5 linked regions of the Homo sapiens genome follow. The protein of the gene in region 2 interacts with the protein of the main gene of each other region in a pairwise test. Each region holds a gene or a part of one and is shown on either strand. Other genes may lie near its edges.

Region 1 (6,669 bases), on a different chromosome or scaffold from region 2:
GAGTGAATAGGCAACCTCTGGAGCCTGAGTGCACCAGGGCTGCGACCTGCACTGTTGGTGCAGGTGGCCCTCCCTGGCTGGTCCTTGCCCTTGGAGAGGTCAGCCGTCTGTCCTTTGAGGAGGCAGCAGGACAGGGAGGACCTCTGTCCCCCATGTGCCACGTGGCCAGAGCAGGTTCCTGCCCCATCCTCATGGTGTGAGGGAGGGGCAGGGCGGGGCATCCTCACAGGCCCTTAGCTCAGAGGCCCCGTGACCTGAGGGACAGCTCAGGAGGTCAAAGGGGGCCACAGGTTTCAGGCTGGCCCTGGCATCGAGAGTCCAGAGAGGCCTCCCGCATCCTTGCCCTTCTTCTCCTCACCTGGTCCAAGGTATTCCAATGCGAGGAATTCTGGGGAACAGGGTGTGAGGGTCCTGTCTTGCTCTGTTCTGGACACCCCCAGCCCGATGTGGATGGGCCCTAGCCCTGGAGCACGCTGCCTTGTGTCTCTGAACCTAAGCCCCAGGGAGAAGGACCCCCTTCCACCAGGGGGTAGGGGCTGCTGTGTGGGCACTGGAGTGGGCTGAGTCCTGTTCAGTGAGGACAGCCGCTCTTATCACTGAGGCACCTGCCTCTGCACTGCAGGCCTCCAGACCACCTCCCTGGCCATCTCAGCATTCTGGATCCTTTTTCCTTGCTTTCCTTTTTTTCTCCCAGTTTTTATCACCAGGGTGACCAGGAGCAACTGAAACAGCAGTGGAACATACCATACCAAGGGTTAGATAACTGTGTGCTAAGTGGATGGAGCCAGGCAGGGCACCAGCCTCCCTCACTCAGCGTCCTTGATGCTCCCCAGAGCAGGTCAGCAAGCCCGGGCCGGCAGCTTCAGGAGACACAGTGTGGCCAGAAGCACCTGCCTGAGCCTCAGGCCCCAGTTCCTGCACCTGAGCCCTGAGGGGTGGAGAGTTCTGTGCGGGCTCCCAGGTCTGCAGGGCCCTCCCAGAAAACAATGGCCTAGCCCTCAACTCTGGACTCAGGCCCTGGGCCAAGGCAGGTCTGAGTGTGCCTTGGGCCTGGGAGGGTGGGTAGGTGTTGGGCAGAGCTCACCATGGAAGCCCAGAGCTCACCATGGAAGCCGGGCAGGCTGGGCTGGGTGTAGGCGAGGCGGGGAGGGTGTGACCAGTGCCCAGGGTCACTCAGATGCTGGCCTGGGGAGCTGCACCCTGCTGACAATGCCACCCTGGGCCCCCAGTGTTCAGGAGGGAGGTCTCCCCGTGAAGTCACATGTCAGACGGGAGGCCTGGCTCTTTCCAGCACAGCTCTGCCCACTGTCTGCTCCATGACCCACCCTCAGAGCTCCAGGCCAGGGTTCCAATCCTGGCTCGGTATGGGATGTGGGCAACAGACCCGTTCCCTTTCCTGAGCCTCTGTCTCCTCTTCTCTGAAACCGCCCCCCGAGCCCCACCCCTAACACCCTTGGAGGCCTCACCCTGAGCAGGTCCCCACCCAGGTCACAGGCTGCACCCCTAGCCCTAGGGCGGGAAGCAGGCTGTGTGCAAAAGGCTTCCCCTGAGCGCAGAAGGCAAGTGTGGATGGTGTCCTCCCACTCAGGGGCCTGGGGATGCTCACGGGGCACAGATTCTCCCAGAAAGAAGCCTCTGGAGGTGTAATGGGCACCCCAGAGAGGGAAGGCGCTGGGGTTCAGGGTTGGGGGAGGCCACCTGTCACCGGGGACCCTGCTGTAGTGTTTGAATGCTGTATGGTGGGTGTGCAGCTCTAAAACAAATTTTGAAAAATGGGGGTGCTCAAATCAGGCCAAGGGGATGGGTAGGAGCTTGAATGGTAGCAGTCCCTCCCCCCGGAACGCTCTCCTTCCTGTGAACTTTCTGGGTCCATCCTCCCAGCAAGGAGGGGTCATAGATGAGTCGCAAGGCTCAGAGAGGTCTGGCCACATGCTCCAGGCAGCACAGCAAGTGCAAGTCCTGGGAACTGCCCTCCCACCCTCTGCAGGGACGTCCTCCTTTCAGGGGCCAAGCTTTGCTCCTGTTAGGGCGGAGGCTGCAGCCCATGTGACCAGGGCCCTGGTCCAGACACAGCCCTGGATCCGGTGCCCGCCTGGGGTGTGCAAGGACAGAGGGTCTCTCTGGCTTATCCAACAGGTGTTTATTAAGGGCCTACGCTGTGCTGAGGCTGCCATTCAGGGAGCCCCACGAATGTGAGGCCTGGCCCCTTCCTCCAGGCCTCCAGGCCCCATCTCTGGAGACTCCCAGGAACTCACGTCGACTCCTGTCCTCCAGTTCTACTCAGTCCACTTCATCTCAGCCTTTACCGGGCCCTCCTGAGTGCCTGTCCCCTGCTGGGTGCGGGGGACACCACGGACCAGACCTGGCTCAAGTCATAGATGGGGTGGGCAGGGAAGGCTTCCTGGGGGAAGAGGTGCCTGAGCACAGGGTTAAGGGTGGAGAATGCTGGGCCATGGAAACAGCAGCAGAGAGGGTTGGAGGGGCCATCTGCAGGCGGATCTGTGTCAATAGAGCCGATCTGCCGGGTGGGAGTCCTGGAGAGGGCCATGGGAGGGTCAGGGTGGGGGACAGGGGCGCAGACATACATGGTCAGACTTGCGTTAGGATGTGCCTCAGGAACCAGGACAGGCTCCCACTGGGCCGGGTGTGTGAGGAGTGGCACAGAGGCCTGGGGCACCACACCCAGTGTGGGCTGCAGCGGGGCCCCCCAGAGCCTAGAGCTGGCCGGGTCCCCAGAGCAGCAGGCCGAGTGCAGGGAGCAGCGCAAGGATGGCAGCAGCCGGCTGCAGGGCATGGGCCCCGCTGGCGTTGCACAAGTCGGTGTCACAGCACGTGATGTTCTTCTTGCCCACGTAGTAGTCCTGTGAGTCATCCACGCAGTTCAAGCTGCAGCCTTTGCTGATGACGGTCAGGAGGCCAACTGCGCCTGGGGAGCAGCGGGATCCGGGGATGGGGCTGCCCTGTGTGCTCACCTGCCTGACCTGCCCCAGGCCTCCTCCTGTCCCACCCTGCCTAATGCTCTAGAGTCCCCCTGGGCTGGCCTCAGGATTGCAAGCAGTGCGAGGGCCTGGTCTCGGCCCTGGTCTCAGCCCTATCCAGATGTCCGAGGCAGATGGACCACCCGCTGAGCGTCAGAAATGGGGTGAGTGAGTAAGTGAGCTCAGGGATGGGGAGGGACAGATGGGTGGAGGAGTGGAAGATGGAGGATGGGGAGGGACAGATGAGTGGAGGAGTGGCAGATGGAGGAGGATGGCTGGAGGGACAGATGCTGGGTGATTGTTGGGGGTGCAGGTGCGGGACGGGTCGGGGACAGGTGGAAGGAAAACAGCACACAGATGCGGACAGATGGCCAGAAAGATTAATAGTTCAGTGGCAGAGACCTAGGCCTGGCGGCTGTCGTCCCCCCACTCACGGATGCGCGCGGTCCAGCACTGCTCCCCCAGCTGGGTGCAGTTCTCCACCTGCAGGCAGTCCTCGTTGCTCACCTGGGCTTTGCAGGAGTAGCACAGCAGGGCAGTGCCTGTGGGGTGGAGTGGGAGGGGCCTCAGAGGCTGCCCCATAGCACTCCCCAGGAATGGGGGCTCCCAGGCAGGTGGGCCTCCATGGCGGTGGCCTGAGGAAGTCCTCGGCGCCCTCTTGTCACCCTCAATGTCTCCTCCCCATCTTCACGGCCCCCTGCTCAGTGCCTCCGAAATGTTGCCCTGTTTAGTCCCTCGGTGGCTGCTTTTGTGACCGTGTGTTTCAGAAGAGGAAGCTGCGGCTGTGGGGGTGACTGAACCCGGGACCCTGGGTCGGGAGGGTCCCACCTCAAGCAGAGCAGCTCCCTGGGACCCTTGGAAGCTGCAGTGCTGGGACTGGGCCGGATGTAGACCCCCGGGTCCTCGCAGGACACCCCCAGCACCTCCCCCTTGTGCCCCAAAAACCACTTCTTAGCCTGAGGCTTCCTGTCCCATGTCTCCCAGCTCCTCATCAGCATCTCTGCCCATCCATCCGTCAGTCTGTCTACCTGCCCCCTAGGAGCCAGGCCCTGCCCCACGGTGGTGAAGGAGAGTGACTCCGTGCTGCCCCTGCAAGCCCCGGTCACAGGGGACGGCAGGGAACAGGTCGCTGCCTGGTCGTGCCAAGAGCTTCCCTGGAGGAGCGGAGGCTAGGGCAAGAGCCTCACCCCCTTCCTCTCCCTTCCTCCTTCCTTCCCCTCCTCTCCGTGTGCCCTGCAGGTATCCCTCTGGCCTCCCCGGCTCACCCCTGCTCCCTTCCCTGCTGGGGGCCAGCCAAGGCCTCACCTGGCTGCAGGGCCAAGCCTGCCATCAACAGGGCAAGCAGCACAGCCTTCGTGGTCACTGGTGGGCTGTGGTGGAGAGGGCCTCAGGTGACTTTATATGGCCTCAAATGGGGAGAGGCTGGACTGCCCACAGTCAACACCAGCGGGTTTCCTGGAGCCAGTGAGGGCCCCGGGGCTGGGCAGGTCCGAGTCTCCTCCCTGAGCGACCTGCACCTCCCTCTCCCTTTGTCCTTCTTTCCACCTCTGGAGGACAGAGCCTACCCAGGGCCATATCTCAGCCACCCCGGGCTGAGGGCTGAAACGTCCTCAAGACCCAGATTATGCCTCTCCCACCTCCCCCACCTCACAGTGCAAGGCCAGACAAGGGAGACCCTTTCTCCAGACTCCTCCAGGCCTCGGCCTTCCAGCCAAGGATGAGGGCACCTCCCTGGGCCCTGTGCTCCTATAGAAGCTGTGCCGCCCTCTGGGGCCCACGGCCCGCAGGGTGATGAGCCTTGGTCACAGCGTCACTGACAGATCATTAGCAGGTGCTGCAAAGGACAGGGGCAGGGGCTGTTCCGGTATAAACCAAAAGTAACATTCTAAGGCCCCCCAGCCATCTGAGTGGAACCCTCCTCTTGGCAAGGGCTTTCCGAAGTTAACCTGAAAAACTGGTTCAGGCCATGACAGCAAAGGGTTGGATAGCCTCATTATCCCTCCTCCCTTCAGAACTCTGGAACAGCCAGCGTTAACATCAACACAGGCCTTCAGTCTGATGAGAAACATTTACCATCTATTGTCTCGGAAGCCTGCTACCTGGAGGCTTCATCTGATGATAAAGCCTTGGTCTCCACAACCCCGTATAACCCAGACATTCCTTTCTATTGATAACTCTTGCAAGCGATTGCCAACCAGAAGATGTTTAAATCCACCTATAACCTGGAAGCCCCCAGTTCCAGCTGCCCACCTTTCTGGACTAAACCAATGTATATCTTCAATATATTTGATTGATGTCTCATGTCTCCCTAAAATGGGTACCATCAAGCTGTGCACTGACCACCTTGGGCACATGTTCTCAGGGTCTCCTGGGGGCTGTGTCACAGGCCATGGTCCCTCATATTTGGCTCAGAATAAATGTCTTCAAATATTTTACAGAGTTTGGCTCTTGTTGACACAGGGGACAGCCTCCCTGGGGAGGAGACCCTGTTGGACGGGCCTTCATTTATGGGGCATTCAGTGTGGGCTGAGCCCTGGGCTAGGTGCTTTACCCTCAGGACCTTGAGTGACCCCCTCAGCTTGGAACTTTAGCTGCAAACGAGTCGGGGAAGTGCAGCTTTTAGCAGCCTCTGCAGTAGCAGGAGGCAGCGGCTAGGCCCAGGGCTGTATGGCCTCTGTTTGCCCCAGATCCCCTCTCCGTCCTGCTCCATGTCCTGGGAGGCTGGTCCAGCTCCCACAGGCAGGAGATGAGAGAGTGGAAGAGGCAAGTTCAGGCCAGCTCTCCTGCCAGTCAGCTGGGAGGTGGTGGCAGTGGCTATGGCCCTCTAGAGCAGGCCCAGCCCGCTGGGCGGTGGTGGCAGTGGCTATGGCCCTCTAGAGCAGGCCCAAGCTCTCATGCCAGTCAGCTGGGCGGTGGGTGGTGGCAGCGGCTATGGCCCTCTAGAGCAGGCCCAGGCTCTCATGCCAGCTGGCTAAGTGTTGGTGGCAGTAGCTATGGTCCTCTAGTACAGGCCTAGGCTCTCCTGCCAGCCGGCTGAGTGTTGGTGGCAGTAGCTATGGTCCTCTAGAGCAGGCCCAGGCTCTCCTGCCAGCCAGCTGGGTGGTGGTAGCAGTGGCTAGGACCCTCTAGAGCAGGCCCAAGCTCTGCTGCCAGTGGCTGGGTGGTGGTGGCAGTGGCTATGGCCCTCTAGAGCAGGCCCAGGCTCTCCTGCCAGTGGCTGGGTGGTGGTGGCAGTGGCTATGGCCCTCTAGAGAAGGCCCAGGTCCCGTCAGCCAGGCTTCTCCTGTCCCCCGGGTTCTGGCCAGCCTCTGGTCACTGTGCTCTCCCCCTCATCCCTGCAAGCCCGAGGGGCTGGTGGCTTCCTGCTGCTGGCTGGCTTTGAGGGGGACTTGTGGCCGCTGCTGTCTCCTTCAACCTGACCCCTGCCTTTGTACATGGACCCTGAGTTAGATAACTCTGCCTGGCAACCCTCTTGGGTATGCTGTTGTTCCTGCCGGAAGCTGGTAGGTCCACTGTGGTCCGTGGCCCTGCCTGCTGCCGAGTGTGTGTCTGGAGGGAGACCGGCCCCTTCTCCCCTGACGCTCTCTCGTCCCCGCTGATGGTTGTCCGGCCTTCATTGTTACCTCCTCTCCTCGATTTTGCCCCTGAAAAGGCTCTGGCACATTTTAGGGGGTGGTGAGGATGTTGCAGT
Region 2 (6,039 bases):
CTTAGAACATCTGCTCTGAGATGGCCAGCAGGCCAGTGTTGCCTACACCTTCCTCTAGGCTCTGTGGCTCCCATGCAGGAGAAAAGCTGGTGTTTGTAAGAAAATCCTGTTTGGGGAGAACTAAAAGGAGGCAGTTTGGACAACTGCAGACAAAATTCTTTCTCATGTATTTCTCACTATTTGCTGTGAAATGGGCACTATTTTATATGGAAGCCAATACACCCTGCCCTTGCTGGGGCCAATCATTACCTGTTAGGTCTAAAGAGAGTTAAAAAAAAAACAGAGAGAGAAAGAGAAAATGAAAAGATTGCCCTGACACCTCTTCCGGGGCCTCAGAGCAGCCCAGCAGCCGGCTGCACATGTGTCTCATGCCCACCGCACCACACTCCCATCACGGGCGACCTCAAGGGCGGGCACGCAGAACAGGGACTGAGACGAGAAGACCAGCCACAGCCACATCAGGGGGGACAAGGACAAGTCCAGTGGAGGAGCAGGAGGGGCTGTCCCCAAAACGCCAAGTAGACCTTTCTGTTATCCTGTTTCTACTCTTTTAAGCTCCTAAGATTCTCCATCAAGGCTGTCCTAAAAGTAGCACTGCCAGATAAAGTTGAGGACACCCACTATGGCCTGGGCATACTCCTGGAGAGACATTTGTGGTTTATCTGAAATTCAAATTCTACCTGCTGAGGTGCTTTTTATCTTGCTAAGTTGGCAGCCTTGCCTGGGAGGGATCTGGAGCAGAGAAGTTTCCTCCGGAAGGAGAGCCTCTGCCAGACACAGGCCCTTGCTGGTCCAGCTCTGGCCCCCAGCTCTCAACAGCCTCCAGGAGTGGCTTCTTTCTTTATGCACCCTGAGGTGGGGCACCGCCTCTCTCACCTTGAGGGGAGAAGGTGGCAGGAGTGGATGGAGCAGAAGCTTCAAGAGCCACATCGATTTTTAGATTGTGAAGCATGATTTGAAAACTAGAGGTGCCAGGCACAGTGGCTCATGCCTGTAATCCCAGCACTTTGGGAGGCCGAGGCAGGCAGATCACCTGAGGTTGGGAGTTTGAGACCAGCCTGACCAACATGGAGAAACCCTGTCTCTACTAAAAATACAAAATTACCCAGGCGTGGTGGCACACGCCTGTAATCCCAGCTACTTGGGAGGCTGAGGCAGGAGAATCGCTTGAACCTGGGAGGCAGAGGTTGCGGTGAGCTGAGATGGCGCCATTGCACTCCAGCCTGGGCAACAAGAGTGTTACTCCATCTCAAAAAAAGAAAAAAAGAAAGAAAAAAAAAAACTAGAGAGATAAGAAATTTTGGTGGTATTCATGGACTTAATGCTTTTCCTATATGTAAACTCTAAAGTAAGAGTGCAGGGTGAGGTCCAGGCAGGGGTAACACCGATGAGTGTCTGTGGGGTGAGTCAGCGGCAGCTGCCCATCCACTTGTTCCGGCTCCTTCCCCAGGAAGACACGGATCAAGCAAGACGTTCTCCCTTGAGACAAGAAGTGGAAGCTCCTGTGAGTTGGAAGTTACTTGGAGGTTGAGACCTTGAATCATAAACTCAGCTATGGTAGCACTGGGAGCATAGGACCCCGCTCCCTCCAGCCCCAGCCCTGGGCAGGTGGCCTGAGACACTCTGCGGTCCTGCAGGTACAGACACAGGCAAGGCAGTGATGCCACGCATGGCCTGAGCCACCGGCCCTCACTTTCGTTCATACCCTTGTGTATTCGCTGGAGAGGAATCCTTGCTGCAATCCACTGTACAGCGGCAGCAGAATTAAGAGGCACAGACGTTTATCTCTATATAGCTTGAAAGTCGACAGTAAAGTGGACCAGAAAGGTACTGATTTCTTCTCTCCTTCACTTTCCCGCTGAACATCTCGTATGGGTTGGAGGAACGCAGCTATCATCAGGACAGCCAGGACACCACTCCCTGAAAGGACATAGCAAAGGCTTCAGCTTTCATGGGGGCCCAGAGGCAGGGTGCCTGGCAAGGATTTGTTTCAGTCACTCATCCTCCTCTCGCGAGGGAGGGCTAATTCAGATCCAGATTTCAGGCGACATTAGACACAACATGCTTAAGGATCTCAGGTGTCTAGTTGCACTTGATCGTGCTGATTCTCTGATTACCTCAAGACTTACCGGCTTTCACATGAAACCTGCCACAATAGGTCAGTATTGTCCTCACCGGCATAAAATACAAAAAATTCCGGAGCGACCCCAGAAGTTCTGAGTGTCCTTAACCATTGGACTCTGCTTCTCATTCTAATCCCCAACGCAATTTCTAACAGGAGACAGCTTTTTATTGATTTTTTTTTTAGGATAATGATTCCCACAAGGTACCATTTGCTACACTTTTGTTTATTTCAAATAAACAATTTTGTGCAAAAGTCCTCCAATAAGAACTGGTTAAAGATATTAAGGGGTATCTGAACTACAACAGAATGTTGTGCATTTGAAGAAAATAAAAAAGAAGCTCTTTATACACGGATGGGAAAATCCCCCACCATAAATGGTAAAAAGAGAAAAAACAAGCAAGATGCAGACCTCTGTGTAGAGTGCGCTACCAATTGAATTTAGTAAGAAAGGACATAAAGATGTGCTTGTTTATATGTGCATTAAATATGTCTAGGAATAAAGCAGGCATGGACTTTCTATGGGTGCAGAACGGGGTCTGAGGACGGCAGTGAGAGGGAGACTCCCCACCGCACACCCTTTTACAGTGCAGTGCTTGCCCACCCAAAGGGGTTCATTCCAAGGCCCCAGCGGATGCCTGAAACCACGGGTGGTGTCAGACTCTACATGTACCACGGATTTTCACTCTGACAGCAGAGGTGGCTACTGAGAGACTATGGCCCGGGGAGCATCTATGGTGCGGACACGCTGGACAGAGGGAAGGGTCACAGCCTGGGCGGGGTGAGCAGGACGGCAAGAGATTCCATCACACTACTCAGAACAAGCGCAACTTAAACCTTATGAATTATTTATTTCTGGAATTTTCCACTTAAGGTTCTCAGACCGCAGCTAGCCTCAGGTCACTGAAGCCACACAAAATGAAATGGGGACAAGGGGGACTCCTGGATTTGCATTTTGAACTATATAAATGGGTTATCTATACAAAAAAATATTTTAACTATTCATTTCATCCATGAGGAAACATCCTGTACTTTCTCATAATTCCAAAATATGACTAAATCTCCATCTGCCCACCACTTTATTATTTGATCCACCTCAATTTCTGTCGATGGAGAACTGATGTTTATTTAGGCGTTTCTCACTTTACTAGAAGCCCTTTCGTCCCCTCATGATTGTAAGTGCCGTCTGTGATACCATTGCATCTCCACTGTTTTCCTCCCACCTGGCAGTGGTAATGATACACAGTGTTTGGGGCACCACAGATGACTCAAGAGTGGTGGCGATCCTTCCCTTCTCTCTGGGCCAGAATCTTTCAGAACGGTTCATTTCTACCTCCGAGAACTTAGACCCCTGCTCCTCTAAAGACGACGGGAATTATCCTATCTTACTGTGCCTGACCAACCTTATCTAGTGCTTTCTCTCTCAGCATCAGTGTCCTCGTGTGACCCATGCAGTGGACTTGCTGCAGCACTGTGCCCGGCAGCTGAGCGTTCCTGAAACTGGGAGGTTTGCAAAGCCAGCTCTCTTCCAAGCTGTGTGCAGAAACAGCAGAATCCTAGCACCTGTCTCAGAAAGCACCATTGGTAATGTGGTTCCACCTAGAAATGCAGATTTATTTCTAGGCTTTACTTTCCGTTATCTGGCTACTTTCCATCTTGGCTAAACATATTCCCCTTCCTATTTCATAACTCAAGATTCTCATGAAGTTTGTGAAATTTCGTATGAAAGCAGGACTCCTGCTGCCACAGGTGTTTCTTGGTCACCCTTGATTTTCCTCTGTGTTGTCCTGGCCACCATGTGGTCTGGCAGGTTGTCACGCCTGCACAGGAGGCCATAGGGTATTTACAATGATCAGGGCCCCCTTCCAAGCCGACCCCCTGAGCTGACTGTGTGTAGACCATGTGGAAAAGGCACATTTTTCCTCCACTCACTGAAGGCAGCGCCTTCTTCACAATCTCGTCTTGTGGGCCAGGACTTCAGTGTCAAGCAGCCCAATAGGACACAACCTACAATCTCCCCGAAAGCCTTGTGGGAAGGGGAGAGGCAGGTTATGAACACAGAAGCCACACCCCTTTGTTCAGAATTATGTATGTCCGGGTGTCATGTGACTCAGAGCCTTCTGTGGGGCATGAATTGGGGGATGCTGCACAGCTGTGTCCTAAATTCTAAAGAGAATGGCTCTTTGCAAGAAACTTGACTATGAATGCAATGCTCAGAAACCCAGGAAAGTTACCCAGGGAGAGGGTGTTCTTGTTCTTTTAGGTCCATTTTTCTCTCTTCCTATGTTTTTCTTTATGGAGACATGGTCTTGCTTTATAGAAAAGGACACACACAGGATCCTGCAGGACTGTTACAATCACAATAGTAAGACCACTTCTTCATTTACATGTGTGTGATCTCTGCTCTACATAACTTCTAGACTTGGACTCCCTTAGGCTGCGGGATTCCGTGAACCGAGATGGGGCTGTGGCCAGAGAGCACACTGGGGGTAACCCTGCAGGGGAGGTTCCACAGACAACAGCCACCTGCGGAGGACAGCTGGCAATGAAGGGCCTGGAAGCCACAGAGAAGCCTGTGCTGTTCCTCTAGAGCAGGGGCCAGCAAACTATGGCCTGCGGGCCAAAGCCTGCCCACTGCCTGCTTTTGAAAATAAAGTTTTATTGGCATGCAGGCATGCTCATTTGCTTACATGTTGTCTATGGCTTTTTCCCATTACAAAGACAATGTTGAACAATTGCAACAAGGACCATATGATCCTCAGAAAGATACTTACATGTAGGAATATTTGCTGTCAGCCCTTCACAGAGGAAGGCTGCAGCCCCCACTCCAAAATTCTGTTCTTTTATAGATAGGAGAAGTCTTTGTTGGTGGCTGCCTAACTGGAATTTGTGGAGCTGGAAGGAGACCTGATGGTCTTGACTCAGCTCAATGTCCCCGAGTCCCCCAGCCTCCTAGTTATGTAGAGGAGGTGGTGAGGGGAAGTGTTGGGGAAGCACAGGCCTGGCTGGTCCCTGGGACCATGTTGATGGGAACCTTGGGGCCTGCTGGGAAAACATGACCACAATTCCAAGTCAGCAGAGACTTGCAGACCAGAGAAAACCGTGGCTCCTCCTGACTCCCTGTCCACACCTTCCACTCACTTCTGAAACCCTCAGTCTGGGCCTTGCACACGAGCACCCTCCCCAGGTTGCTCGCCTGATGGGCATCAACAGCCTCTCACTGGCTAAGAGCCTCGTCCAGCCTCCCCCCTGAGCCTCCTAGGGGCCCTGCCACACTCAACACTCTCAAACCCCCTCCCCAGCTGATTCTACAACCCTGGTGTCCTCCAAGACCCTGGTTTGGTTTTCTGTCTCCTTCCAAGGCTCCAGTTGTCTGCCTGGCCCTCAGTGTTGCTGAACCAGGGGTCCAGCTATACTCCCTTCTCTGTAACAATTCCCTCTGCTTTTTCTCCCTAAGAGCCTCATCCCTGACATGATTCCAGTCACCATGTTGGAAGATGCCTCCACGTCCACACTTGCATTGGCCTCTGGCCTGAGCCCTGCACGGCGTCAGACTGCCCACTGGACACTATGCAAGAGTCCCACTGCGTCCTCAAGCCAGGTGTTCCCGGCCTGAGCTCATCTTCCTGTCAACCCCAGGGCTGTCTTCTCTTCCCCACACCATGTCCAACCCACACGGACCCTGCTGGCCTCTCTCTCAGCCCCTCCATCTCTGCCTCCCCGTACCTGCTCCCTCCTCTGGACTCAGCACTCCGTCCTCAGTGGGTCTCTGCCCGCTGTCTCTCTGCACCTCTAAGTCACGCTGGCATGGGGTCTGTCAAGAAGGCAAGTCTGCACTCGTCCAGACCCTTTGGCACAACATCAAGGGCCACAGCTAGTCTTGTGCCCCATTTCTGCCCCTCCACCTTGCCCCCAGC
Region 3 (6,798 bases), on a different chromosome or scaffold from region 2:
CTGTAACATATGGCTGTTTTAATAGAGTCAAAAATTTGGTCTATAGAAAAAATATCGTTAAACATGATAGTATATAATGCCTGTAGCACAGCAATGGCTAATGGAAATGGCATTGAGCTGACAAGGGGCTGGCTGCAACTGGGTCATTCATCCAGTGCAAACCTGTAACCTATAAAGAATGATGAGCAAAACTTCCACCTCAATGGAGAACAGTTGTTCCTGCAGCTTGAACATCTCTAGAGTTATAAGTTTACTCATCACTGCCCTCAGACCAGGGCAAGAGCCCATGTTAGAGGATCTTGCTCTGGGCTTCTTCTAGCCATGCCCCATGCTATAGGCCTAGGAACCTATGGGGCTAAAGGGATATGCCTATTGTTTTTTAATCACAGTGATATTTGTTAAACACAAAAGCCTATTTCCAACCTGTGATTTGGAGTCTGGCCAGACAGAACCTGGTGGCAGGATACTAATTGCAGGCATCTGCAATGTCCAGCCTGTGCTGTCAGGGCAGGCACAATAGCTGTTCGCTTCTTGTGGGAGAGCAGAGAGTGCTCCTCCTCTTGAGGCCTCATAAGCTCCCAATCAGGCAGGGCATCCTGCAGCAGCTTCTCTTCTCCTGAAAAAGTGACAGCAGCTGTGGCATCCCCAGTCATGGGTCTGGCATTGGGAAGAGTTCCTTGGAGAAATGGGTAATGGAGAGGGGGAAGGACCCAGCAGCTCGGAATCGGAACCAGCAACTCAATCCCAGCCACATGTATCTATTTTTAACTCTTCAGACTATAGTTAAGTCTAGTAATTGCCCTGGTAAGAGTGGTAGCCATTCCCATTGCCTTTTGGAAAATAGGTGGGAAACATCACAATCAGGTAAGCAGCCCAAGCATAAAGCTCACTGGTGGCAGAGCCAGGAAAAAGTTCATTTCTTATCAAATAGTTCATTCTAAAATTTATGTTAAAACAGCAATTTGAATAACTGTACTTCTATAAGATTTAGCTAATATCTTACTATCTTACTAATATCTTACTGAATCTTAACTATCTTGCTAATACTTACCCTCATTGATATATCAGTTCATTTTTGACAGTGTATTTCACTCACATACCCACATGAATGTGTGTGATGAGCACATGCTCTCAGTCCTGTATGTTAACCAATCTTGTTTTCCCCCCTTTAGTATCAAAAGGTTTTGGAGGGCAGGAACCATTTTGGCCTCATCTTTTGTGAACCATCACAACACAGAACAAAGCCCTTCACAGAGTGGGAGCTCCATAGACAGCAGTGCATGGTTCTAATAGTAATCCTTGTGAAATCTGAAATTCTCAATCCCCAAATTCCTGTAATATGAATACTAGAGACCAAGGAACTTCAGTCCTCTTGCTACAGCTAACAGCAGAAAAATTAAGAACTTGTAAAAAATGGTAAATAACAAAAAGGATAGTAAATTGATCCCCAACCAGCTGCTCTGAGACACAAAACTGCTTATTTTGTATGAGATCAAATATATAAACTGGAAGGCCAACAATTCTTGACAAGAGTGTCATGATACATGTTCATGACACAAGAAGTCGTTCCTGACCACTCATTAGTAATTTTGAAACCAAAGCCAAACAAGCCCATGTCTTTCTATACTCTAAGCCGCCATGCTAAGATTGTATTTTTTTTTAAATGTCTAGTTACAGTTTCTTGTGATAACTGAAGGAGAGAAACTGTAATTTAGGACACAATCTTTCCAACCCCATGATGTTGAAACAGGCCTACTGTGCTGTTAAGGAGAGACACTTTAGAGCTGCGAAGGGAAATGTATTGGTTTCCTGACTTCTAACAGTGAAAATTTAAAGGAAGTCAGATCAGAGAAGCAAAGCGTTCTGTGGGAGCAGGGAGAAATCTGAACCAAAGGAAGACTATTTCTCTTCTCTTTCTCAGAGATAATTCTCTGTTTTATTTTGCTTGTGAAAATTTAGTGAACAGACCTATTACAGATGGAAAATAAATGGATAGAGTTCAAGCCTCCAACCCCAGGGTGTCCATATATGGCCAGGAACATCCCACCAGAAAATGATGGCTAGAGGTAATGATTAAAATAACACCTTATGTTTGGGTATCCTTGATCTAAGTGATACATTTTCACGTATCTTATTTCAGTCCTCATAACAAGCTGTGAACTAGGCCAGTGGTTCTCAGACTTAGATTTCACAGACTAGTATAATAATAACAAACTAGTGTGACCAACATAAGGATACCAACTCCTTATTTTGCCAAACAAGGACATAAAAATAAGAGTTATTGGCTGGGCGTGGTGACTCATGCCTGTAATCCCAGCACTATGGGAGGCCGAGGTGGGAGGATCACTTGAGGTCAGGAGTTCAAGATCAGCCTGGCCAACAGGGTGAAACCCTATCTCTACTAAAAATACAAAAATTAGCTGGGCACGGTGGTGGGGCACCTGTAATCCCAGCTACTTGGGAGGCTGGGGCAGGAGAATTGCTTGAGCCCAGGAGGTGGAGGCTGCAGTGAGCTGAGATCACACCACTGCACTCCAGCCTGGGCAACACAGCGAGACTCTGTCTCAAAAAAAAAAAAAAAGAGTTATTAAATTACTAACTACAACTACAGTCTATTTTCATCATCATTTCATAAAAGGGGATTTTAACACCACAAAACTGGAGAGGACATAACTTCAGAATAAAAGACAAGCCTTTAAATTGAACACACTTAACTTGGTGAAACATTTACTACATTGTTAACTTTATCATTGTCACATTTTGGTCACAGGTTGTGGAAACCTTCATCTTGAGCTAGAACTGACAGATCCCCAGATGGATGTCTGAGAACCAGTGAACTTGGCATTATCAATCCCCATTACCAGACAAAAAGACAGGCTGGGAGGTGAAATGAGTCTCCAAGATGGGGGCTTAGCTAGTGAGGGCAGAGCTAGGCTGTGAGCCCTGGTCTTCTAGATCTAAGCCCATTACAGCATAGCCCTCCTCTGGTTTTGAAGAGGCAGAATAACACATATACATCCATTAATAAGTTATCCAAAGCGTTCAATGGCCACTTACCACTCTGGTTGGTAACCAGGTGGAAAGTGCCTCTTTTCTAGTTTCTAGAACAGCCACTAGCCAGCAGTTCTCATAGATAGACAACAGAACCTGCTCCTAGGAGGAATTTTATGGTCCTTAGCCAGATCCCTTCCTGTGCTCCATTAAATGCTCCAACATGGAAAATGCTGAGCACGAAGCCTCCGCTACCCCCACAGCATTCAGTAATTATGACTATTATTTCTATTGTAGAATTTGAGTGAAAAGGGCACAAAACTTTTTCATAAATATCAAATACTTGGTTTAGGTCCCTGTGGATTCCTGTAGACATGAAAAGAGCTTAAGAAGTCAAATTGTAGTTTGAGTTTGGACATCTCTGTTTCCCCATCCTGCTGATTATTCCAGCATTCCTCTCCCTTCCAAACCTCTGCCAGTTCTTAGGTCAACTTGAAGAGGGTTTTCAGAGTTGGAGTGTAAGTCTAGCCATCCCAGCCCAAGACTGAATCTTATTGGCAACCTTTTTCCTTTTGGAGAAGCCTATATATGGCCCTTAGATTAGGCTGAGAAAGAACAATTGGGGGGAAGGTTACAAACTAATATCACCCAAGGAAAACTTGCCAATACAAGGAGTGTCCCACGGAGAAATATGTGCTCTTTCTCTCTTGGCGCTCAGCAGCAAAATGGCAACTTTCGTCTCTTTCCTTTGCTGCCTAAAAGCCCACCTCCCACTTCTCTACCCCGCCCCTACTGTGCTGCACGACTGAGCAGATATGACTGGATTGGCCCTGATGGGTAGGTTTTACTGTCCAGCAATATTTTAAGCTCCCAGCCAGACAGCTTTTATGAAGGGAGGGATGTTTGGGAAACAATGGGAGTGAGAGAATGGGAGAGCTGTGTTGGGCACTGAGGGGAGGAGGATGGGGAAAGCTGATGTGTGAAAGCTTAGCTGGGGCTTCTGTGCCTCCCAAAGTTTCTTTTAGCAGCAGACTGGGCCTGTACATCAGTAAACCTTTGGCGTCTCTCCAGAGCGCATGAGCCTAGGGGCATTTTCCCAAGGCCTTATCATCAGCTGGGAGAATCTTAATGATGTAGGGACAGTAAGTGGTCAGTTGTGTGAATCCCTCTGCCCTGAGTCACACCAAGAGTGGTTGGTCCTTTCCAAAGGACCATATTTCATTTTTTATTGGTGGTTTGCTCTTGTCTCTCAAAGCCTTCAGCAGAATTGTGGATATTAGAGGCTGGGAAGTGTAGTGGCGGAAGGAAGGATGGGGAGCATGTTGCTAATAGATACAAAAGCACAGCTAGATAGGGGGAATGGGTTCTGGTGGTCTGCAGTGCTGTAGGGTGAATATGGTTAACATTAATTAATTAATTATTTTAATTTTTATATTTTTGTGTGTGTGTGAGACAGAGTCTCGCTCTGCCACCCAGGCTGGAGTGCAATGTCACGATCTTAGCTCACTGCAACCTCTGCCTCTCAGGTTCAAGTTATTCTCCTGCCTCAGCCTCCTGAGTAGCTGGGATAACAGACACCCACAACCACGCCCAGCTAATTTTTTTTTTTCTATTTTTAGTAGAGACGGGGTTTCACCATGTTGGCCAGGCTGGCCTCAGACTCCTGACCTCAGGCGATCTGCCCGCCTTGGCCTCCCCAAATGCTGGGATTACAAGCATGAGCGACCATGCCTGGCCGTTAACTATTTTATTGTATAGTCTCAAAAAGCTAGAGGAGAGGATTTTGATTGTTCCCAACAGAAAGAAATGATAAATGTTTGAGATGCTGAATATGCTAATTATCCTGATTTGATCATTACACATTGTATACATGTATTGAAATATCACTGTGTATCACAAATACGTACAATTATTATGTGTCAACTAAACATAAAAGGAAAGAGCTTTCTAAAAAGATCAAAACAATAAAAAAGAAACACAAACAAACCTTCAGCAGGGTGGTCTCCCTCTTTGAAAGGAGCCTTAACACTCCAAAGAATTCTGGTGCCATTTGTCAAAGTAATAGCCTTTCTCACCACGTTTCACTTATAATTACATATACTTTTGAGTAGCGGAAGTTCAATCAATGTCAGCTAACATTTTTAGACTTTAGTGCCTTCATCTGTTAAATGGGGATATGATGGTTTTGCTCACCAGGAGGCTCTTGGATTAAATTCTAATGTGGCTTAATGAGGAATGATGCTTGGAGGGCATGGACATATGCTCTCTGAGGCCCACTCCCGTCCCATCATCTGGGACTGACTATTGGTAGTATAAAAAATGGTTATTTTGACTACATTTCCAAACCAAAAATAGGGGCATTTTATCCTACAAGTTTATTCGTGAAAACAATGGAGCAAAAATAGTTGAAACTTAGATTGTTTTATGAAATCTGCAATGTATGATTACTAAATTGAAGACAACTTGGAGGGCAAACTAGACAAAAAAAATCTAAGCACTGGCTTCACCACCCCACCCCCCCTTCCTGTCCTTTCTGGTGTCATGGACATATTGCATTTTGATGGGGGCAGTTTGAAGGAGGATGGTACCAATGTTGTGTGAGTCCCCAATTCCATTTTAAATAAAATGGTCACTAGCCCAAAACCTTGTTTACTTTAGATGTCTGATTTCTTTTGAACTCCCAAGTTTGAGGGCCCACACTGACTGGGACAATGCCCTATAGCAAATCCTTCAGTTAAAAATAGATGGTCAAGGCTGATCCCTGCAATATCAATAAGGTAAGAAGTCAGAGGATGAGGGGAAAAAATCCAATCATTCTTTCTTTGGGAATATTCAGTACATGCTGATTCCTGAAGCTTGCGCTCTCCCTGATATAGTCCTATGAAGAGAAAAGAATCTACAAAGCTTCTCTTTAAAATGAAGTTCTCCCTATCCAAGGCTTCCCAGTCCAACTTGGCTAATGTAGTGGGTGGTGTCATCGCTCATCATCATTTTGTGAGAGATGGTAGTAGAGGATGCATTTGAATCCAGAAAAACGGGGCTGTCAACAAGGCTCTGAACCAGTTATAGTCTCTCGGATTTAGACAAATCTAGCTTTTCAATTTAGCACTTTCTTTGTTTTCTTACGCTGTTAACAAAGAAGATACTCCTCTACTCGTAGTACCCAATTGATTAAGTTATCTTTGTTATTGGTTCTTCTGTTTGTAGCTGGGAAGTCCTTGAAAATATAAACACTCAGTCGTGTATATCTTGGGGAAAGTTTTGAAAGAGATCGGGAAAGAGGCTCACCTTAGCTACCATTGAGAGATGACTTGTCTATTCCTACCAAGAATCACTTTCTCAGGTCTTTCAGAGGGATGTCTTCCCAGGGTGTCTGTATTGCATTATTTGAGATAAATAAGTAAATGTCTAGAATAGGAGACATAACCACATTCAAATGTAAGTTCCAATTTTATATTCTGTAATCTTATAGATTATTAGATTATTGACATTTTGGATAATCTAATGGTGGCATTCTCCTACCAGGGTTCGTTTTTCCTTTCTTTCTTTCTTTCTTTCTTTCTTTCTTTCTTTCTTTCTTTCTTTCTTTCTTTCTTTCTCTTTCTTTCTTTCTTTCTTTCTCTTTCTTTCTCTCTCTCTTCCTTTCTTTCTTTCCTTTCTTTCTCTCTCTCTCTTTTTCTTTCTTTTCTATTTTGAGACAAGGTCTTGCTTTGTCACCCAGGCTGGAGTGCAGTGGCCTGATATTGGCACACTGCAACCTCCACCTCTGGGCTCAAGCAATCCTCCCACCTCAGCCCCCCAAGTAGC
Region 4 (6,039 bases), on a different chromosome or scaffold from region 2:
TAACACCACTATAAAAATTTATATATAAGTCTTTGCGTGGACATGTTTTCATTTATCTTGGGCAGATTCTAAGACATGGAATTGCTGAGTTGCACAGTAAATTATACTTAACTTTTTTTTTTGAGATGGAGTCTCACTCTGTAGCCCAGGCTGGAGTGCAGTGGCGCGATCTCAGCTCACTGCAAGCTCTGCCTCCCAGGTTCACGCCATTTTCCTGCCTCAGCCTCCCAAGTAGCCGGGATTACAGATGTGCACCACCATGCCCAGCTAATTTTCGTATTTTTAGTGGAGGCGAGGTTTCACCATGTTGGCCAGGCTGGTCTCAAACTCCCAACCTCAAGAGATCTGCCTGCCTCAGCCTCCCAAATCGCTGGGATTACAGGCATAAGCCACCACACCTGGCCTTCCAATGGTTTTCTTAATTCATTTGGATTTTCTACTTGCAAGATGTTGTGGTTACCCTCCAGAGACAATAAACTCCCCCACCCAAAATTTGAATCAGATATTGAAATGCCAAAGTACCAAGAGGTACTAAGAGGATACCAAAAGGTTTATTACACATATAATAAGGCTTTCCAGGGAGAGCAAGGCAAGATCCCAAGCATGTCCCAAAATGACTTGAGAACCTGAAGGCTGACTGACTGGCTTGTGGTTTTAGAAGGTGGGGCTAGAGCAAGAGCTCCCTCATGTAGGCCTGAGCTTGCATGGTTGAAACTTCCTGCTGGTGTCAACCAAGGTAGCACTTGGGCTTTCTTATCAGCTTGTCAAGATGTGGGGCAAAAAGGAAAGGGAGACTTCCAGTTTCTGGTATGGCATGTGAGAAGTTTAGAGTTTATCACTTATTCCTAACAACAAGTAAAAAGCTAAACAAATGGAAAAACTGACAACTCTTCTTAGATCCACCAAAGAAGTGAGATCATGGGTAAACTGCTGCCCTCAAAATAGGAGAGACAGACAGATAAATACAGAGAATCACACCTTATTAGAGCAGAAACCCACGAGCAGAAGCCTCCATGGAAACCAGTACCAGAGTAGGAAACCTTGACTATAAATGATAAATTGCTGGAAGTTCAGTGTAGAAAAGTCTAAGACCTAAAAACTGTAGGGGAGCCAATCATAGAGGGTCCCCACACTCCAGGAGCTCTACCAAGTTCTCCCAGTAAAGATCTGAGAAAAATCCCCTCAGGCTTCTGGCAAGGGGGAAGAAAAGTAACCATTTTGAAATATGCCAGAACATTCCGTTATTCTCACTAAGGCCTGCCCTCAAGATAAATGGTTTTGCACAGCCCAAACTATTGGGGTTTTGTCAGAGATTAACCAGCCTGGGGAATATCCAAATGCAACTGCTCTAGCCTCCCATGTGGGAGAAAGGAAATACCCATTCCAACCCACTGTAGTATCCTGTCCCACCAAAGGAGAGGAAAAAAACTGAAAAGCACTTGTGAAGTTAACAGTTCAGAAGCACAGGCTCACTAAAAGACTAAGAACCTAATCATAGGACTGCAAAACACTTTCCCTCTCCCACATCTTAATACCAAATTACTAAAGACCTATTTACCATAATTCCTTTTTTACCCAGGTACATCATGTCCAGCTATCAAGAAAAAAAATTACAAGGCATCCTAAAAGGCAAAAGCAGTTTGAAGAGACCAAGTAAAACTAAGAGAGTAAGCACCAAAACCAGACTCAGATATGGTGGGGATACTGGACTTACCATATGAAGAGATTAAAGCAACTATGACTAATACACTAAGGGCTCTAATGGATAAAGTAGATAGCATGCAAGAATAGATGGGCAATATAAGCAGAGAGATGGAAATTCGAAGAGAGAATCAAAAAGAAATGCTAGCGATAAAACAAATTTAAAAACCCACTGTAACAGAACTGAAGAATAGTAGACTGGACACAGCTGAGGAAAGAATCCCTGAGCTTGAAGACATTATCAACAGACACTTCCCAAACCGAAAGACAAAGAGAAAAAAGATGGGAACCTCCTCCACCAAAAACAAACAAACAAACAAACACAGAATAAAATATCCAAGAACTGTGAAACAATTACAAAAGGTATAAGTGTACTAGAACACCAGAAGGAGAAGAGAAAGCTAAAGAAATCTTTGAAACAATCACTGAGAATTTATCCTAAATTAAGTCAGACAACAAACCACAGATCCAGAAAGTTCAGAAAACACCAAGCACAGTAAATGTTCCTCAAAATTACACCTGGGCATATCATTTTCAAACTGCAGAAAATCAAAGATAAAGAAAAAAACAGTGAAGTATGTGAACACAAGGGAAAGACAGCTAAATAGAACTAAACATGGCTAGGGAGAAAATGGCTAGGGAGAACTCTCTAGGGAAGCTGAGGCTGACAAATGATCTGGACTTTGAAAGGTAAGGTTAAGTAGGAGCCGAACAAAATTAATTGTGGTAGTGGGAAAGTGCATTCAAGAAGAGGGACTGATTCACAAAAGGAAAGAACATGTTGGGAAATCCGAGGAGATTGTAAAGTGAAAGCAAAAGAGTGGCGCATGGAAGCCAGATCAAGAATTGACATTAAAGTGACAGGAAACTATAGAAGAATTTCAAACAGAAAAGTGGCAAAATCATATTCATATTTCAAAAATGTAACTAGGTTACAGGTAGAGCACATCAAGATTAGAAACAGGGACGATAAGATAGTAGCAGTGGGAAAAAAGAAGTGAAAGAATCCATATATATTTAATGAGTATAATTAATAGGACAAGAAGTGGAAAGAGAAAAAAGAGCAGAACCATATCATTCCTTGGTTTCTAGTTTTTTTTTTTTTTTTGAGACAGGGTCTCGCTCTGTCGCCCAGGCTGGAATGAGGTGGCATGATCACACCTCACTGTAGCCTCGACCTCCTGGGCTCATGCCATCCTCCCACCTCAGCCTCCTGAGTAGCTGAGCCTACAGGCATGAATCACCATGCCCAGATAACTTTTTGCACACACACGGTCTTGCCATGTTTGTTGCCCAGGCTGTTCTCAAACTCCTATACTCAAGCGATCTGCCCACCTTGGCCTCCCAAAGTGCTGGTTACAGGCGTGAGCCACTGTGCCTGGCCTGGTTTTCACATTTAACAATTGACAGAGAACGTAACAGCAGGAGCAAGTAAGGAAGTAAAAGTGGGTAGACAAGACCCATGTAAAAATGCTTGCAAATTTAAAAATGAAACAATCTGGCTGCTCTAACGCTATTAATGCCTATTTCTAGTTTTGTATTTTAAAAAGTTTTCATTAAAATGTTGTTTGAGGATCAGGAAAAACAACTAAGATACTAGGCTTAATACTTGGGTGATGAAAGAATCTGTATAGCAAATCTCCATGACACGCGTTTACCTAAGTAACAAACTTACACATCCTGTACATGTACCCCTGAAGTTAAAAGTTAAAAAAAAAAGTTCAAATTGTGTGTTTTCCCATGTGTGTACACATATACACAGAGAAGAGGGAGAGTGCATGCAGTAGCAAGAAGATAAAGCAAGTTGTCTGACTTAATTTCGGATAAATTCTCAGCATGAATTGTTAACAATGGCTAAGTCTCTGTATGTGAAGGATAGAGACTGCCCTTTGTATTATTTTTATTTTGCAATCTTTTGTAAGCTTATTCCCAAAAAAACATTTAAAAACTGTTATGTTCAGGCCGGGCGTGGTAGCTTACGCCTGTAATCCCAGCACTCTGAGAGGCCGAGATGGGCGGATCACCTGAGGTCGGGAGTTCGAGACCAGCCTGACCAACATGGAGAAACCCCTTCTCTGCTAAAAATACAAAAAATTAGCTGGGAATGGTGGCGCATGCCTGTAATCCCAGCTACTAGGGAGGCTGAGGCAGGAGAGAATCCCTTGAACCTGGGAGGCGGAGGTTGTGGTGAGCTGAGATCGCGCCATTGTACTCCAGCCTGGGCAACAAGAGCAAAACTCCATCTCAAAAAAAAAAACAAAAACAAACTTATGTTCAGAATACATATGTGTGTTGTACATAAAAGAATGTACACAAGTTAGTGATTGAGTGTATATAGCAGTTAACTTACCTTTCTGAAACGAATGCTCATTTTAAAATTATTTTTTAAATCTGACAAGTAAAAATTGTACACATATGGTGTATAACATGTTTTGCAGTATGTATATATTGGGGAATGGCTAAATTAAGCTAATTAACCTACACGTTACTTCACATACTATTTTTTGTGGTGAGAACACTTAAAATCTACTTTTTTTTTTTTTTTTTGAGACAAGAGTTTCACTCTTGTTGCCCAGGTTGGAGTGCAATGGCGTGAACTCAGCTCACTGCAACCTCTGCCTCCTGGGTTCAAGTGATTCTCCTGCCTCAGCCTCCCAAGTAGCTGGGATTACAGGCACCTGCCACCACACCCAGCTAATTTTTGTATTTTTAGTAGAGACGGGGTTTCACCATGTTAGCCAGGCTGGTCTCAAATCACCTCTGATGATCCACCTGCCTTGGCCTCCCAAAGTGCTGGGATTACAGGTGTGAGCCACCGCTTGGCCAAAATCTACTTTTTAAAAGCAATTTTGAAGTATACAATACACTGTTAGTAACCATAGTTACCATGTTTTAAATAGATCTCTTGAACTTATTCCTCCTGTCTAAATGAAATTTTGTATCCTTTGACCAACATCTTTTCCAACCCCATATCCAGTCTCTGGTAATCACCATTGTACCTTCTATTTTTAATGCTCATTAAAAAGAAAATATACATATATATACTAGAGGCAGAGAGCTTTAAAATAAAATCCAAGTTCTTACCATAAAAAATCTAGTCCATTCCTATAGTCCTCACCAATCTCATCTCAAGCTACTCTTTCCCTCACTCACCACGTTATTATCCTGCTTTTAAGGAAATGTTTTGCCTTAGAGCCTTCCCCCTTGATGTTCCCTCTATTTAGGACACCCTTCCTTGCAAGTCTTGCTCCTTCCTATTCTTTGGTATCAGCTCAAATGTCACTTCCTCAGAAAGGCCTTCTTTGACTACCCTGTCCATATGAGATCCCATTGTTCCACCGAATTGTTACTTTCTATCACAACAACCTGTATTATCACATACATATTAGACATTAAAATTCAAAGAAAGCAAGGGCCTTGCTGTTTTGCCCATTGAGTATATCAAGGGTGAAGCACAACACTGTCCATAAATACATTTTGCATCAATGTTGATGAGATGTAATGGGAAGCCAACCAAAGAATTCAGTAGTTCTGATGTATAAGTCCTTACACATTTTCTAAACTGTATTTGAGAAGACTGAAAAATATAAACAAAAATGTCTTACCTCCTGCAATTACAAAATGGCTTAAGGCATCTTTATTTCGGTATACATTCAGACTAGTGTTCACTGTGCTGGTAAAAAGGGAGGAGAAGGAAAATATAAGATTTAAAGCATATCCCATTTACCTTCTTGAGTGTTATTTTCACTGACTTAATAGATTTAGAAAAGCCTACTATATCAATCCCTGTTCCTAGCCTAGGCCCCTTCAATGTGTTCCAGACATGGTTGTAAAACCATAACTACACCAGTCTTTTACACAGAGAAAAGTTCTTGAAAAAAAAAAAAAGGCATTATTAATCACTTTCATGTGGGTATTCAGTTTTCATAACCCCACCTGCTCAAAAGACACACTCCTAAAACAATATCAAGAAAATTCACTATCTCACAATTCAGAGTGAACTTACTTGAATATAGTCACAAACACTGCAGTTCTCCAACCCCAGCGCCAGCCATAACGAATGAAGCCTCGTGTGGCAGCACGATGTGCAGATTGCTAAAGTTAATTAAAAAACTGTGAGGTTCTAAGACACCATCATATTTTCCTTATTCTAGAACTGCGGTAGAGGAATTTTAGCTATGGATTAGTCAGGTACACCCAAACAGATAGAAATACTAGAAAATCTCTAGAAATACTATTCTTTAAGTATTGAGGCTTACGTAAAAGTTCCATGTGTAGCCTATCCTATCAGGAGATGAAAAAATGGTTGAGTATCCCTTATCTGATACTTGAGACCAG
Region 5 (6,039 bases), on a different chromosome or scaffold from region 2:
CCGGCTGCACAGGGTGGAGCGGGAGAGGCAAAACTCTCTTGTCATATAGCAGGGGACTTATTTTTAACCTGGAGGCACCTTTATCTTTAACATGAAAACATGAAGTTCTTTCTAGGGAAGAGAAACTTGGACAGAGGAAAAAGAAGAAGAAGAAGAAGAAGAGAGAGAGACAGAAAATAACTGACTGTGAAAAGAAATAAGGCCTCTTCCTTAGAAACAGAAACAGAATTCACAAATCACAAATCCAGGCCTGTTTTCTGGAAGTCTCCCTGGAAAGATCCCAAGCTGGACCATAAGCGGAGGCATGGTGGAGAGATCTTAGCCTCTGGTCTTTCAGTGCGTGCCGGCCTGGCTTTGTCCTCCAGCTGCATGCGGGTCACTGTCATTCCAATCACATCCCCTCATCCTTGGCCCTCTCTGCCCACATCAGATATTCTGAACTGGGGCAGCCCCATTCTCTGGGCCCCAGCCTGGTCCGTGGGGCCCCAGCCCCCTTCCCAGGTCTTGCTGTCACCTCACCATCACTGACAACCGTGACACTGTGGCATCCCAGCCATCACCCATGGACTTCTCACAACAGCCCTCAGAAGCAGAAACACAGAACAGTACTGCGAGGCCAACTCAGGCACAGGCCAATGCCGCGCCTTGCCCAGAGGGAGTCAGAGTGGGATTCAGGCCTCCTGCCTGCCAGCACAGGGGCTGAGGCCCCTCTGGTTCCCCAGGAGATCTCGGTCTGGCTCCAGAGAGTCTGAATGGTGAGTGGTATTGCACAGAAGCCACAGGCTGGGGCCCCAGCAGGCTGCACGCCCCAGCAGGGCGTGATGGAGTCAGGCCAGGATGGGATCACCTCCCCCACACACCTGCTGACAAAGGCCCATTCAAGACAGGACAGACAGCAGTCCCAGCAGCAGACACAGAAACCCAGAGCAGCTGCCAGGGCCAGGAACCCAGAAGCCAGGCCCACGCCACCCTGCCCACAGCCAGGCCACAGCACCAGGCAGCCCCCTTTGCTCTCTCTGCCTACCTCTTTAGAAGGACAGCTCTGGCCTGCATGTTTCAGCCTACAGGGCACTTTGCACAATTTCATATTGTCTCCCTTTTAGGGGTAGAAGTGGCATGAAGATGAACCCTGACCCACGGGCCTGGATACCCAGAAATGTGCCCTGCCTTTAGAGGAGGGGGCTGTTGACCTGACTCTGTCTCTGTTTCAGGAAACACATTATCCCCTCCCTCCCCTCAATGCATCCTCATACCCACAGAGCCAAGGCCTACACCCCTTCCCATGTAGGGCTGTCACCAGTGTATGCCCCCATCACACCATAGCTCCCTGGGAGCACAGGCACACTCTGGCCATCTCTGGATCCCTGGCACTGAGCACAGCAGCTGCTCAATAAATGTTGATGTGTGAATGAAAGGACGCTTCAGCATCATTATCCCTTTACATCAAATCCATTCTAAGCTCAGAACAACCAAAGGATCTGTAGGGAATTTTTCAGGCATTTAAAACTTTCTCGGTATCCTCCTTCCTCCATTGCCTCATTTCTAATCTCTGTGTCTCTGTCAAATCCCAACTACCAAAATGCTGTGAGGAATCAGCCTCTCTCCTTTGACTTCAGCTTTTAAGCATCTCTCAGACCTCAGATGGGGTCAAATTCTTAGTTTCTAGACTCTACCAAAGCAAGTGGGAGACTGAGGTGACGCACGGTAATAAAGGGATGTGCATCTTGGGAACGCGTGGTGTGCACCGGCGTATGGGAGACAGCCGGGAAGGGCGACTAGGTGTCTACACCTCCTGGTGATGAGGACTCTTCCCCATGCGTGTCACAGCACACACGCTGTTCACTGGGCTTTCTCCACGTGTCTGACACTGTGCCAGGCACCGTGGGGAGAACAGACCTGCCATTGAGAGGCGGTGCAGTGGAGCGGGCGGGGTGGGAGGCGGGGCGTGTCCCTCTGCAGCTAAAATGCAGGTGTGTGCTCTCAAGGAAGAACTGACAGGACATTCACGGTATATGAGTATGTTTATTGGGAATTTTAATGCCTGTTTATTGGGAATATGGAATAATTACTTGAAAGAATAAACACTTGGGAGGAGCCACGAAGGATGATATAACAATAATAATGCCATTCTAATAATCCTAATAATGTGTCATTACTATCATTATTACAGCAGCTGATATCTCCTGAGTGTTTACTCCATGCTAGGCAGCATGCTGAGCCCTTTACACAGCTCGCCTCATACTGTCCTCACACTCATTTGACAGGTAAGGAAACTGAGGTTTAGCAAAGTGAAGAAATCCAGGAAGCATCAGAATGCAGTTTAGAATCCAAGTTTGTGTGTCTACAAAGACTGCCACCCTCTACTCGGCACATTCCAGCAACGGCTTGAGCTCAGGCAGAGGGTGAGACAGTACCAGGCTTCGGATGACCATCTGGAGAAGGTGCCTGCAGAGGTGGCTGCAGCCAGGTCACGCTGAGCCTGGAGTGCCTACACCATGTACCTGTGCTTATTAATAGGCACTGGTGAGCCTGGGGAGGTTTTTGAGCAGAGGAGTGGCAAACCTGGACCTGAGCTGTAACATCAGTGGGTAAAATGGAATGGGCTGAGAGGGTGGACGTTCACAGGCCATCACCATGGTCTGAGAGACTGCAGCTCTTCGGGAGAGGTGACAGGGCGTGTGAGAATGTGTGAGCCACTGCCTCCCTGTCGGGTGTGGGAGATTATATATGTGTGAGGAAGGGAACGTGTGTGAGAGTGTAAGTGCACCCGTGATTGCATGGAGGGGCTCTTCCTATGGAGGAAGAAAGTCGCAGGGCCTCCTGGTAGGATGTGGACATGAGGTGGACAGTAGGGGAGAGGAAGGAACAGGACAAGCCCATTGATCTACCTGAGCAGGAGGGCTCCAGCAAAGGAGAAACCTCAGAAGCCCACAGGGCCTGCCTGACATATGAGGGGAACATTTATTAAAAGGATGAACGAGGGAGTTTGAAACCTTAGCCTCTGGTCTCTCAGTGTGGGCCTGGCTTTGTCCTCCAGCTGCGTGGGGGTCACTGTTATTCTAACTACACCCCTTCATCCTTGGCCCTCTCTGCCCACATCAGATATTCTGAGCTGGGGCAGCCCCATTCCCATGGCCCCAGCCTGGTCCGTGGGGGCCCAGCCCCTTTCCCAGGCTGTGTGCTCCCTCCCACATCTTTGTAACAAACATGTTCCTGCGCAGCCTACAAGCTGGCTTCATCCCTTCCCAGGTCGGGACCTCTCCCTCCCCGGATTCTGGAGCAGAGATGATGCTGCCAAATTGGTTCCATGCTTTTGTTTCGGCCGGAGATGTCCTGCCTCTCATCAGGGACGGTGTCAGAGCACTGTGTTCCCGACCGGCCCCTCTCGTTGCAACTCTCCAGCTGGCCAGGGGTTCTCCCTGCAGAAGATTTCATGGACCTCCAAAATGACAGCCCAGTCCTCTCCAGTTGTCTCTTCCAGAGAACAACTCTTTAAAGAACCCCCCCCAACCGCCGCCCGCCTCCAGTGTGCAGCCTGGTAGAAAAGGCCAGGTAGACCACAGCATCCAGGAGGAGGTGGCTCCCTCAGCCCTAAAGAAAAAAACTTGGTTTCAGCTTCTAGGGCACCTTCTGCCACACTGGGTGAAAAGGAAACTTTCTCCAGGGTAACCAGAGCCCAGCCCCTTCCTGCTCAGCTCAGCTCAGCTGCAGCCCTGTATTATGAAATAATGAGTACTATTTGGTACCTGGAGAGAAAAGGGATCTCTTTCAAGATTGTATAATCCACACAAATTTAGAGGAAGACATGCCTTGGAAATCATGAGTCTAAACCCCACTATTGACAGATGCGGAAACAAAGGTCTAAAATCCGAAAGGCTTTCAGTTGCTGAAGAGCAGTCCAAGCCATTTCTGGATTTCACCAGAAGCCCAGTTTGCATCCAAAGGGATATTTGTGCAATGAACGCATTTGCCTTTCGGTAGCACGGAAGCTCAGGGGGAGAGCTGGGGCTAGAACCCGGCCTTTCCACAGCAGGCTCCCTGCCTCCTTGGGGCTGTGCCTTTCTTGACTGGTTTGCTTCCCTTAGGGTGCTCAGAAGGTGATTTGTTCGAAGGTGAATATTGGGGGGCTGCCTGGCACAGTCTGCCATCCAGATGGCGGCCGACTAAGTCCAACAAGGTTGGGAGGAAGAGAGGAGGTGCTCTTATTTAGGGGAGATTTCGGTGGGTGGACTCCCCCGAGGCTGTCGGGAAATTTCCAGGGTCTAGGAAACTGCCCTTTCTCCCCCATCTCCTTGCCACAGCTTCCAGCCTCGCCTTCCAAGAAAACATAGTGAAGCAGGCTCCTCGGTTGTACCCGCCCACTAAGGGACCCTCACTTTGGAAGGGCGTCCCAGTCACCAGCCGACCAAAGGCTCTCCCTCCATAGGTTTCCATCAACCCACCATCTCTGATGGTGACTGAGAAAAGAAAGCAAGGGTTGCAGGACAGGCAGTGTGAAGGCCAAAATCCTGGCCGAGGAGTTAGAAGGCCTCAGCGACTACTGGCCACGTGACTGCTGAGCCTCAGTTTCCCCCACTGTGTTCCCACTGGATGCTCCCTCAAGGCCTCTTCCGGCTCTGAGAAACCTAGGATTCCGATGTCAGGGATTGTGTCTCCCTCCTCACCTTCATGTCCCCAGCAATTAATACACAGTAGACACTTAAAACAGTTCTTTGAATGATTGAATGAAATCGGTCCTCAGGTCAGTCTGAAGATCCGATGGAAGCCAGGAAGGAAACGCTTCCCCCAGGCGCCTACCGTCTGTCAACCATAGAAGCCACACGTCTTGGGAGAACCCTGGCAAGCCTAGAGCCCTTTGCACACCCGCTTCCTCTCCTAGATGCACAGATCTGTTTGGAGGAGCCAGGGGGGAAGCAGGAAAACGTGCCAGGAAGAGAGGGTGGCCTGAACCCCAGGCAACGGCGGGTAGCCCTAACTTTCGCTTTCTTGACTCCTGTGGCCCCTCTCCTTCCCTCTTTCTGGTTTCCCTCCCCTTCCTGCCTCCCTGGCCTGGCCTCCTTGGCTTTCCTGGGACAGTAACCACTTTTCCTTCTCTCCTTTGTTAGGGCTCAGAGCCTCCGATGGTCCCAGAGCTGGCCTGATCCTCTGCTGGTGAGGATGACTCCCAGAGCCTCAGGCTTTCTCTGGGTCAGGGAAAAGAGCAGCGGCAGTGGAGAGATTGAAATTCTGGTCAGTGCCCAGCTTCTGGAGCCCAGCACCTGGGAATGGCTCTCGTTAACACCTGGAGCTCCGGACTGGGGCTTTGAGGAGGAGGGAAAAGGGCTGCGCCCACTCTTTATCCAACCTTCCCTTCCAGGTTTAGGGAAGGGGCTCCTCTTTTGAGGGAATCTGGCAGTGCCTTTCCCTCCACCTTCCTCTGCAGGGTTCCCAGGGAGATGTTAGGGTTTTCCTTCTGGGCTTCCTGAGCCTCCATCTCTTCCCCTCCACACCCCTAGGGAGGTGGCTGGATAAGGAAGGAAACTGCCCTCTCTCTCCCCTGCCTCAGCCCAGCCTGAGACTTATTTAGATGTACTGTGTGTGTGTGTGTGCATGCACAGTGCGCATGTAGGGTGTCAGTGTAGCATTGTAGCTGGTGTGTGGTGGTGCGGTATATATGCGGTGTGTTTGGTGTGTATGTGTGTATAGGTATGATGTATATGTATGTGTGGTGTGAGTGTGAGGGTGTGTTGATTGCGTAGTGTGGTATATGTCTGTATGTGTTTGTGGTGTTGGTGATGTGCAGTGTGTGTGAAGTGGGTGGTGTGAGTAAGGGGCCACTGCAATTGGGTGTAGGAGCCAGATATCTAGGTCTCCTAGCCAGGGATAACCAGTATCTAGGCAACCATACTGGGGGGAGGGGAGGAGATATGGAGGTGAGGAATGGGCAGGAGAAAGAGGGAGGCTGAGAAATGGAGGAGTTTCCATGGCAACGACCAGGCAAGTCACGTGCAAAAGGCTAAGTTGCGGACGTAGACATACACATCCATAATATGAGGGTGG

What was found.
Region 1: the proteins of UNC93A (region 2) and PSCA interact in a two-hybrid assay, tested with the Homo sapiens proteins (one large-scale study listed by BioGRID).
Region 3: the proteins of UNC93A (region 2) and GJA8 interact in binary tests that used the Homo sapiens proteins (3 or more experiments, as listed by UniProt).
Region 4: the proteins of UNC93A (region 2) and TIMMDC1 interact in binary tests that used the Homo sapiens proteins (3 or more experiments, as listed by UniProt).
Region 5: the proteins of UNC93A (region 2) and FXYD6-FXYD2 interact in a two-hybrid assay, tested with the Homo sapiens proteins (one large-scale study listed by BioGRID).

What each region holds. Positions count from the first base shown.
Region 1 is NC_000008.11:142,678,178-142,684,846, reverse strand, and holds PSCA (prostate stem cell antigen preproprotein), read right to left. Parts: upstream 4,353-6,669; 5' UTR 4,309-4,352; coding exon 4,284-4,308; intron 3,521-4,283; coding exon 3,413-3,520; intron 2,927-3,412; coding exon 2,715-2,926; 3' UTR 2,122-2,714; downstream 1-2,121. UniProt on the Homo sapiens protein: May be involved in the regulation of cell proliferation. Has a cell-proliferation inhibition activity in vitro. May act as a modulator of nicotinic acetylcholine receptors (nAChRs) activity.
Region 2 is NC_000006.12:167,299,800-167,305,838, reverse strand, and holds part of UNC93A (protein unc-93 homolog A), read right to left. Parts: intron 1,921-6,039; coding exon 1,706-1,920; intron 1-1,705.
Region 3 is NC_000001.11:147,899,718-147,906,515, reverse strand, and holds the start of GJA8 (gap junction alpha-8 protein), read right to left. Parts: upstream 3,722-6,798; 5' UTR 3,655-3,721; intron 1-3,654.
Region 4 is NC_000003.12:119,503,289-119,509,327, reverse strand, and holds part of TIMMDC1 (complex I assembly factor TIMMDC1, mitochondrial isoform 1 precursor), read right to left. Parts: intron 5,797-6,039; coding exon 5,708-5,796; intron 5,375-5,707; coding exon 5,307-5,374; intron 1-5,306.
Region 5 is NC_000011.10:117,869,531-117,875,569, forward strand, and holds part of FXYD6-FXYD2 (FXYD6-FXYD2 read-through protein isoform 1 precursor), read right to left. Parts: intron 1-6,039.